Regions from separate parts of the Homo sapiens genome. Here region 1 is linked to region 2. Evidence: fine-mapped expression QTL. Tissue or cell type: whole blood. Region 2 holds a variant in brackets; the other region holds the start of a gene. All regions are shown on one strand. Distances are from middle to middle.

Region 1 (4,000 bases), 51 kb before region 2:
TTGAAAAGGCGCAGAGCCCTATACCTCATTTCCTCCATGATAAAAGGATCCAAGTGAGGCCCTGTCACAGCCTGTGGGTAGGGGATGCGGCGGGATCCTCATTGCCATGGTACTCAAAGGTAGAAGAGCCTGGAGTTTGTTGCTTCTCTTTGCTATTCTTTCATATCCTCTTGGGCCTGGTGATTAATTAGCAATTCTCATTCCTCTCAGCCAAAGGCCTGCACTGGGCTTTATTTGTCTTTTTTTATTTTTTAAGCACTGCCTGCCAGAGATGGGCCTGGGGCCTGATGAGGACCTTAGCGCTGCTCGTTCTCCTTTTCTGTTCATGCACACATTCCTCCATGGGGTGGGGAAGGCAGGCATGGGGTGTGGCCCTCGGAGAAGTTAGGAGTCCCCCAGCTCAAGATACAGTGGCAAAGACCTAGTGGTCCCCTACCCCCACTTCTCTCAGTTCCTGGCATGAGGAGAGAAGACCCTGCTCTGGTGGAGCTGACAACCTTTGAGGCTGGGAGGAGAGCAGCCTCTGGGCATCGTTCCCAGTGTCCCTCACACTAAAACGGCGTAGATGGCAACCCCCCACCCCCACCCCGCTGCTCAACTCTTGTGTTTGTTGTTCTGTTTGCCCCATTTATCTGTTGCTGTTTTTGTGTTGTCTTCCCCTGCTCCGCATTTTGTAAAATGGCCCCTGGGGGAGTGTTTTTGCTGGATCTGCTCCCTCTCGCTCTCTCACTCCACTACTTTTTGGAACAAAGTGATGGCAGAATGCGGTGGTGGTGGGGGTCTTTTGTACTGTTGGATTAATAAAATGATTTTAAAATCCCAGACAAGGACTCCTTGCTGTTGCTGTGTGAAAAGGCTGGAATGAGCCGCTGTCACTGCTGGGTAGGGTGCTTAGGGGTTGAGGATATGTATGCTCCCCAGGGTCCCTGGGAGTGGGAATGGCAGATTTGGCCCCTGAGCTGACCCTGGTATAAGCTGCTGAGCCAAGGGAGGCCTGTGTTTCCCCGCCCATCCCCCTGTGTCTCCACTGTGAGAAACTGAGTTTCCTTTTTGAGCATATTCCTGGGCCAGGCCTGGAGCCAGGCGGATTTGGCACCACAGCCTCTGGAAGACAAGTGCTTGAGCTCTTCTGGGTTTAGCACCCCACCCACCTCCCAGTTGTTTGGGTTAGGGAGCAAGTGTCGCTCTAAGGGTGAGGGGAGGGGCTGCTTCTGTCCTAGCAAATTTCATTTTGGGATGTTTTTCAGATCGTTCCCGTCCCCCAACCGTTTTTTAAAGTAGCAATGGCATCTTTTAAGCAGTCTGTTTTGGAGCAGATTGGGGAGAATGGCAGGAGGGCTATTTCCACACCCTGGATTTGCGACCTGTCCCTCTCCCTTCCCCCATCTCACAGCTGTCTCTGTCTATCCTGGGGCCAACCTGGCCCCTTGTCTTCGTCATCTCAGAAGACGGCACCGTCTGCTTTTCTCTCAGTTTGTGGGGGTTCCCTCTAGAAACTGTTTAGACACTGGGAAAGAAGGGCAGGAAACTCAGGATTCGGTTAGCTGGGACCCCGGTCGCCCACCAGGAGGTAAGCCCAGGTTTAGGGCCGTGTCGCTAGACCTCCCTTCCCCTCCCCTGGCTCTCAATTCCTGCTCTTATTGGCCAAAAGTTTCCGCCCCCTTGGGGAAGTTGACTTTTCATTGGTCAGTTTCTGGTCACATGATTTTCTTCTCGGGCTGCAAACAAAGGGAAGCCTGCAACAAGTTAAGCTGAAGACCGAAGCAAGAGCTGGTTCAGGTAATGCCTTAGCTGGGAAGGGGTCCACAGATTCGCTTTGAAGGGGGTGGAATAAGGAAAAGGGAAGGCGGAACTAATCTAGAAGGAATGAGCTGCTTTTCATTTCTGGGCTGGGGGAGGAAGGCCAGGTGCCGACGCTAACACAACAGGAACTTGCTCTGGGTACCCCAGGCAAGTGGCCCTAGATCCTTTGCTTTAGCGGTTTGGAGGAGCAACTGTTAGAGGAGTTTAAATTAACTAGAGGCGAGACTTCCTAGCTTTATGCTGAGTGGGAGAGCTCCCCCTTTAGCTGTTTTTTAGAAATAGCAGAAGTCTCTGTCATAATCCTTACAGGAGGTGTTTGTTGAATCCTGCCTGAATGAAAAGAAGGGGGTGGAGGGAGGGAGTGGAGGTGGGTTTTCTTCCAGAAGGTCGATGAAAAGAAAAAGATCTGGAAACACAGCAGGGAAGGGTGGAGATTAGACAGCAGAAGGAACTTCCTAATAAGGCAGTGAGATGCTGGCTTGGGAGAAGAGGTGTTTTTTTGAACCCTGGGTTAACCTAACCAAGAAAGAGGTATCAGGGTTTGGAACCCAGAGTATAGGAGTTTCAGAGTGTCTCCTATTTGGGTCTCATAAGTATTTGTTTTGTTGACCCAAATACCTTTGCTGGTTTCCATGGAGACAGTGGGTCTGACATCACTGTGGTTGCCATGGTGCCTGGTTCTAGAGGACCTGAGCAGGCTGCACACACAGCTAGGGATAAACAGGGACTTCAGCCCAAGCTGCTGCCACTTCCTTCCTGCCACCACCTGTTAACAGTCAGCAACTGGGGATGGGGAGATGATAACAAGGGCGGGGGTGGAGCCACAAGCGGAAGGCTGAACAGCCATGGCTCTATGGATACTTACAGATGCATGCCAGGGTGTCCTGTTGGATTTGGTACAGGGAGGTCATTGCAGCCATTCTCCTGTCTCCGTGTGGAATGGGTGCATGTGTCTGGGAGGATGGGCATTGGGAAAGACCTATCCAGGACTTGGATCTTGACTGGCAGGAGCCACAGGAGGTTACTTAGGGCACCACGCAGGACTTGAAAACAGCTCAAACAGAAGGGGATAATGTGGTTGGTTTCAAAGGTAGAACTGCCATACTCTCCCAGCCTCACTTCCCTTTTCCTGAGTTTTCTTATAAAGTGCTCGGGAAGCAGTCATTTATCCTGTTCTGAGGGATCACAATCCAGTACTCTTGAGAGGTCAGCTCATCTATCCTTCCACCTTTATGCCTGGTCCCAACAGGAGCTGCCTGAGGGAACTGTTTTAGCCTTGGATGAAGGGGCGGATCCCTCTCTTCTTACCCTGCTTTGTGTCAGTCAGGCTTTGGAAACTGGAGTGATTCCCTCCCCTATCCCTGTCAAGTCAGAGCAGATTAACCGGGTGCAGGACCATAGCCCTGATTTTTGTCTATTTTTTGCAAGCTATAAAGTGATGTATATATACATGATAGTTGCCATAAATCCATTTTCCCAGTCACCTTCAAGTTCCCTAAGACCAAACTCTGGCGATTACTAAGAAGGTAAACAGAATTTAGGATGAAGACTGAGAGTGATGAGGAGACTTATAAAAGGTGCATCCAGGTGGATCTAAGCTATGCCAGTGGCTCTTAACCCTGGCTGCGCATGAGAATCATTTGAGTGGTTTTTTAAAAGACCCACAGCCGGGCCTACCCCCCAACTCAATTGAATCAAAATCTTAGGTGATTCCAATGTGCAGCCAAGATTGAGAACCACTGAACTAGACCATACCAAGGACTTATGCTGGGCAAGTGGTGGGACACTTAGGGCTGAAGGAGGCCATTGAGTCTTCCCTTCCAGGTCCTGGGGGAGAAGGTAGTGATTGTGTAGGTACCTGGTGTTGTGAAGGGAGGGCTGTGTTGTTTCCCTGCTCTTCTTATTAACAAGTCTTCTTATTGGCAAGTTGAGTCTGTCAACCTTGCTGGGCTTCATCTTCCCTGACTCAAATGTCAGGGGGCTGGACTGGAATTCCCCAGAGCCTTTCCAGCCTATGCTACTTTGACCTTTCAAGGTCAGTTCAGTTTTCCAAGGCCCTGTTGGTCCCTGGAAGAGGCTGGCTTCTCTGTGGGTGTTGGCAGATTCTGATTTGCAAGGCAAATACTGCTTAGAAGAGCTGGGGTGTCAGGGAGAGAAGGACTGGAACCAGGCTTGGTTCTGGAGGCTGCTGCCCAGC
Region 2 (4,310 bases):
CTGTGGGCTGGCTGGGAGCTCATCGTGGTGGTGGGCCTGGGGCCCTGAGAGTAGCGCCATCTCTAGTAGCTGGAGCTGTTTCTCCTCGGCCTTGTGCTTTCCTTCCGTGATCCTTAGTAAGAGTCTGAGGTGTGGCCTATGGAACTGCCCCTCACATTTGTGGGGCTGGAACAAGAGGCCTACATACTAGATGTCTAAACATTCAAAAATTATAAATAAGCCAGGCTCACGCCTGTACTCTTACCTACTAGGAAGGCTGAGGTGGGAGGGTTGCTTGAGCCTAGGTGTTTGAGTTCAGCCTGAAGAACATAGTGAGACCCTGTCTCAAAAAAAAAAAGTTATAAATAAAACTAACAAACTGTTAAATAAATAAAATGTGGCTGGGCGCAGTGGCTCACGCCTGTAATCCCAGCACTTTGGGAGGCCGAGGCAGGTGGATCACCTGAGATCAGGAGTTCGAGACCAGCCCGGCCAACATAGTAAAACCCCATCTTTACTGAAAGTACAAAAATTAGCTGGGCGTGGTGGCTCATGCCTGTAATCCCAGCTACTCGGGAGGCTGAGGCAGGAGAATCACTTGAACCGGGGAGGTAGAGGTTTGCAGTGAACCAAGATTGCAACACTGCAGTCCAGTCTGGGCAACAAAGTGAGACTCTGTCTCAAAAAAAAAAAAAAAAAAAAAAATATATATATATATATATATATATATATTCACATATATATTCATATGTTCATATATATGTATATATATTCTAACCTCCTACTTTGACAAATATACCTTTATAATGACAAAGCTGAAAAATATGTAACTCAAAGTTGCCAACATATCAAAATTGATTGAATTTAATTATTGTTGTATATGTCTAGATGTTCTATTAATGTGCCAGAGATGATTGCATAAGTAATGAAGGTAAATGTCACTTATAAATTATTCTATTTTTCCATAACGTTTATTTTTCTTGCCTTTATTTTAGAAAATCACAAATTATATTAATTTGATGAAGATCTTCACCTAATTTGTGTGCTGTTGATAGTAATGATCTAGATAAAAGTATAAAAGTCATTTTTTCTAAAAAGTATAGAATCTGAATATTTTTCATTAAAATATACATTGCAATAAATGTAAAACACTAAGAAATTAAGGCTGGGCGAGGTAGCTTTGGGAGGCTTAATTTTGGGAGGCCAAAATTAAGCACTTTGGGAGGCTGAGGCGGGTGGATCACCTGAAGTCAGGAGCTCAAGACAAGCCTGGCCAACAAGGCAAAACCCCGTCTCTACCAAAAATACAAAAATCAGCCGGGCGTGATGGCGCATGCCTGTAGTCCCAGCTACTTGGGAGGCTGAGGCATGAGAATCGCTTGAACCTGGGAGGTGGAGGTTGCAGTGAACCGAGATCGCGCCACTGCGCTCCAGCCTGGGTGACAGAGCGAGACTCCGTCTCAAAAAAAAAAAAAAAAAAAGAATGAATAAGATCTAGTATTTGCTAGCACGACAGGGCGAATATAGTAAAACAAAATTGTACATTTAAAAATAACAAAACCTAGGCAACATGGCAAAACTCTGTTTCTACGAAAAACACACAAAAATTAGCAAGGTGTGCCGGTGTGTGTCTGTAATCCTAGCTACTCAGGGGGAGCTGAGAGGTGGAAGGATCACTTGAGCCCAGGAGGTTGAGGCTGCAGTGAGCCAAGATTGCTCCACTGCACTCCAGCCTGGGTGACCCTGTCTCAAAAAAAAAAAAAAAAAAAAAGAACAACAAAAAAGCCTAGAACAATATAATTGGATTGTTTGTAACACAAAGGATAAATGCTTGAAGTGATGGATACCCCATTTACCCTGATGTGATTATTGTGTATGGCACGCCTGTATCACTCAGCTCTTATATCTCATGTAACCCACAAATATGTACACCTACTATGTACCCAGAAAAATTAAAAATTAAAAAAAAAGATTAAAAAGAGAGAGGAAAAAAGAGACCTGAGGGAGCTTGTTCCCCTCTTCCGCCACGTGAGGATGCATAGAAGGCACCAGCTATGAGGAATAGGCCCTCATCAGACACTGAATCTGCTGGTGTCTC[A/G]ATCTTGGACTTCTCAGCCTCCAGAGCTGTGAGCAAGAAATTTCTGTTGTTTATAAATTACCTAATCCAAGATAATTTGTTATAACAATCTGAATAGCCAAAGGCATCAACTTATCTATTAAAATAAAAGGCAAAATATTGGTTTAAATAAATGAATATAAAAAATTGAAAGCAAATTTTTTGAATAAAGACAATTATTCTAAATTTGATTTTACAAAAATTTAAATTTTATTACACGTTTTTACAAAAATAAAACTATTTCCAATTCTAGTATTCAATATCTAGTATTTACCTCACAGCCAATGTAATAATTGAGCTTTATGCATTTACATCTAGGCCTACATATTTACTAATTTAAGAGTAATAAGAATTATTTATTTATTTTTAGGTATTTTGCTAAGCACCATACTCTTTATTATTATTTTAAAATTTCATAGAGGGTCTCACTAATCACTATGCCCAGGCTGGTCTCAAATTTCTGGCCTCAAATGATCCTCCCACCTGAGCTCCCAAGTAGGTGGGATTACAGGCATGTGCCAGCATGCCTGGCTCCATAATACAAATTATTCGATATTGAAAATATTCCTCAACTACTGTGCACAACAGTTAAGAATGCTCTGGTAGTCGACGAATACTTCCATAGTCGTGTTTGAAACAGGAAGGGAAGGAAGAAAACGAACATTCAGCCCTTCTGGTGAAAGATATGTTGTGCTTATATAAAAGGGTTTGACAAATTAATTCATTTGTCTTTTCTTTTACTGAAACAATTCTCCACTGAAATCTTCCCTGTATTCTAAAGCAGAGTTCATCAGCAACATTGGTTGTGCGGCAACCCACACACCTTTACAGCGTTCGGATTTCGTTGCCTTTGTTTTGAAGACATAAGGTGAGAGATGTGCAGAAATGTTAGTCACAAAAGAAGATGTTAGGATTATGTGGTGCCCTGTGCCAGCACTGAGTTCAGCTCCTGAGAGAATGAGGTACCTGCACGTGTGTGTGTGTGTGTGTGTGTTTGAGACAAGGTCTCACTCACTCTGTCACCGAGGCTGGAGTGCAGTGGCATGGTCACAGCTCTCTGCAGCCTCAACCTCCCCAGCTCAAATGATCCTCTCACCTTGACCTCCTAAAGTGCTGGGGTTACAGGCATGAGCCACTGCTCCCAGCCATGTGTGTTTGATTTATTGTAACATTTTCACATACCATAAAATTCATCCATTTAAAGAGAATACTTTAGTGGTTTCTAGTACAATTCGGAGTTGTGCAACCATCACCACCAATTCCAGAATGTTTTCATCAGTACAAGAGAAACCCCGTACTCATTAGCAGTCACTTCCCATTCTCCCCTCCCCAACCCCCTGGCAGCCACTAATCTACATTCTGCCTCTATAGATTTGCCTATTCTGGATGTTTAATATAAATGGAATTGTAGAATATGTGTCCTTTGTGACTTATGTCTTTCACTTAGCACAATATTTTCAAGGCTCCCCCATATTGTAGCAGATGTCAGTACTTCATGGCTGAATGAGATTCCAGTGTATGGATACACCACATTTTGTTTATCCATTCATCAGTTGATGGCCATTAGGGTTCTGGCTATTATGAATAATGCTGCCATGAACATTCATGTACACGTTTTTGTGTGGGCATGAATTTTCAATTTTTTTTTTTTTGAGACAGAGTCTCACTGTGCTGCCCAGGCTGGGGAGCAGTGGTGTGATCTTGGCTCTCTGCAACCTCCACTACCTGGATTCAAGTGATTCTCCTCTCTCAGCCTCCTGAGTAGCTGGGATTATAGGCATGCACAACTATGCCTGGCTAATTTTTTGTTTTTTAATTTTGTGTTTAACTAGAGACAGGGTTTCACCATGCTGGCCAGGCTGGTCTTGAACTTCTGACCTCAAGTGATCTGGCTGCCTCGGCCTCCCAAAGTGCTGGGATTACAGGCATGAGCCACCGCGCCTGGCCATATTTTCAGTTCTTCTGGGGATATACCTAGGAGTGGAATTTCCAAGTCACCTGCGTTCATTAACAATGTTTGTGTGTATGTATGTGTGTGTGTGTGCATGTGTGTGGGTTCAGGGAAGGGTCCTTTTGCTTAAGTTTAAGGGTGGTATTGGCAGCCCATTCTCTGCTGTCCTGTGGGGAATGAAGGAAAGGGCTTTTGTCACACTGGGCTGAGTGGCCAGAAAAGGGTAAAACCAGAATGGTGGCTGTCACTTGTGAGAGATGCCAA

What was found. PIP is the estimated chance that this variant, and not a neighbour inherited with it, causes the effect.
Region 1: it holds the start of PBXIP1, and the variant in region 2 is fine-mapped to the expression of PBXIP1 in whole blood (INTERVAL, PIP 0.98).

Annotation. Positions count from the first base shown.
Region 1 is chr1:154,953,848-154,957,847 of GRCh38, reverse strand. PBXIP1 (PBX homeobox interacting protein 1) reads left to right here and starts at 1,749. Exons shown (of 11, transcript NM_020524.4): 1 at 1,749-1,779. It overlaps PYGO2 (pygopus family PHD finger 2), which reads left to right. Exons shown (of 3, transcript NM_138300.4): 3 at 1-822.
Region 2 is chr1:154,902,397-154,906,706 of GRCh38, reverse strand. No RefSeq gene overlaps it. Among named protein-coding and RNA genes, the nearest start is that of PMVK, 32 kb to the left of the region's middle. The variant A/G (reference allele first, on the strand shown) is at 2,078.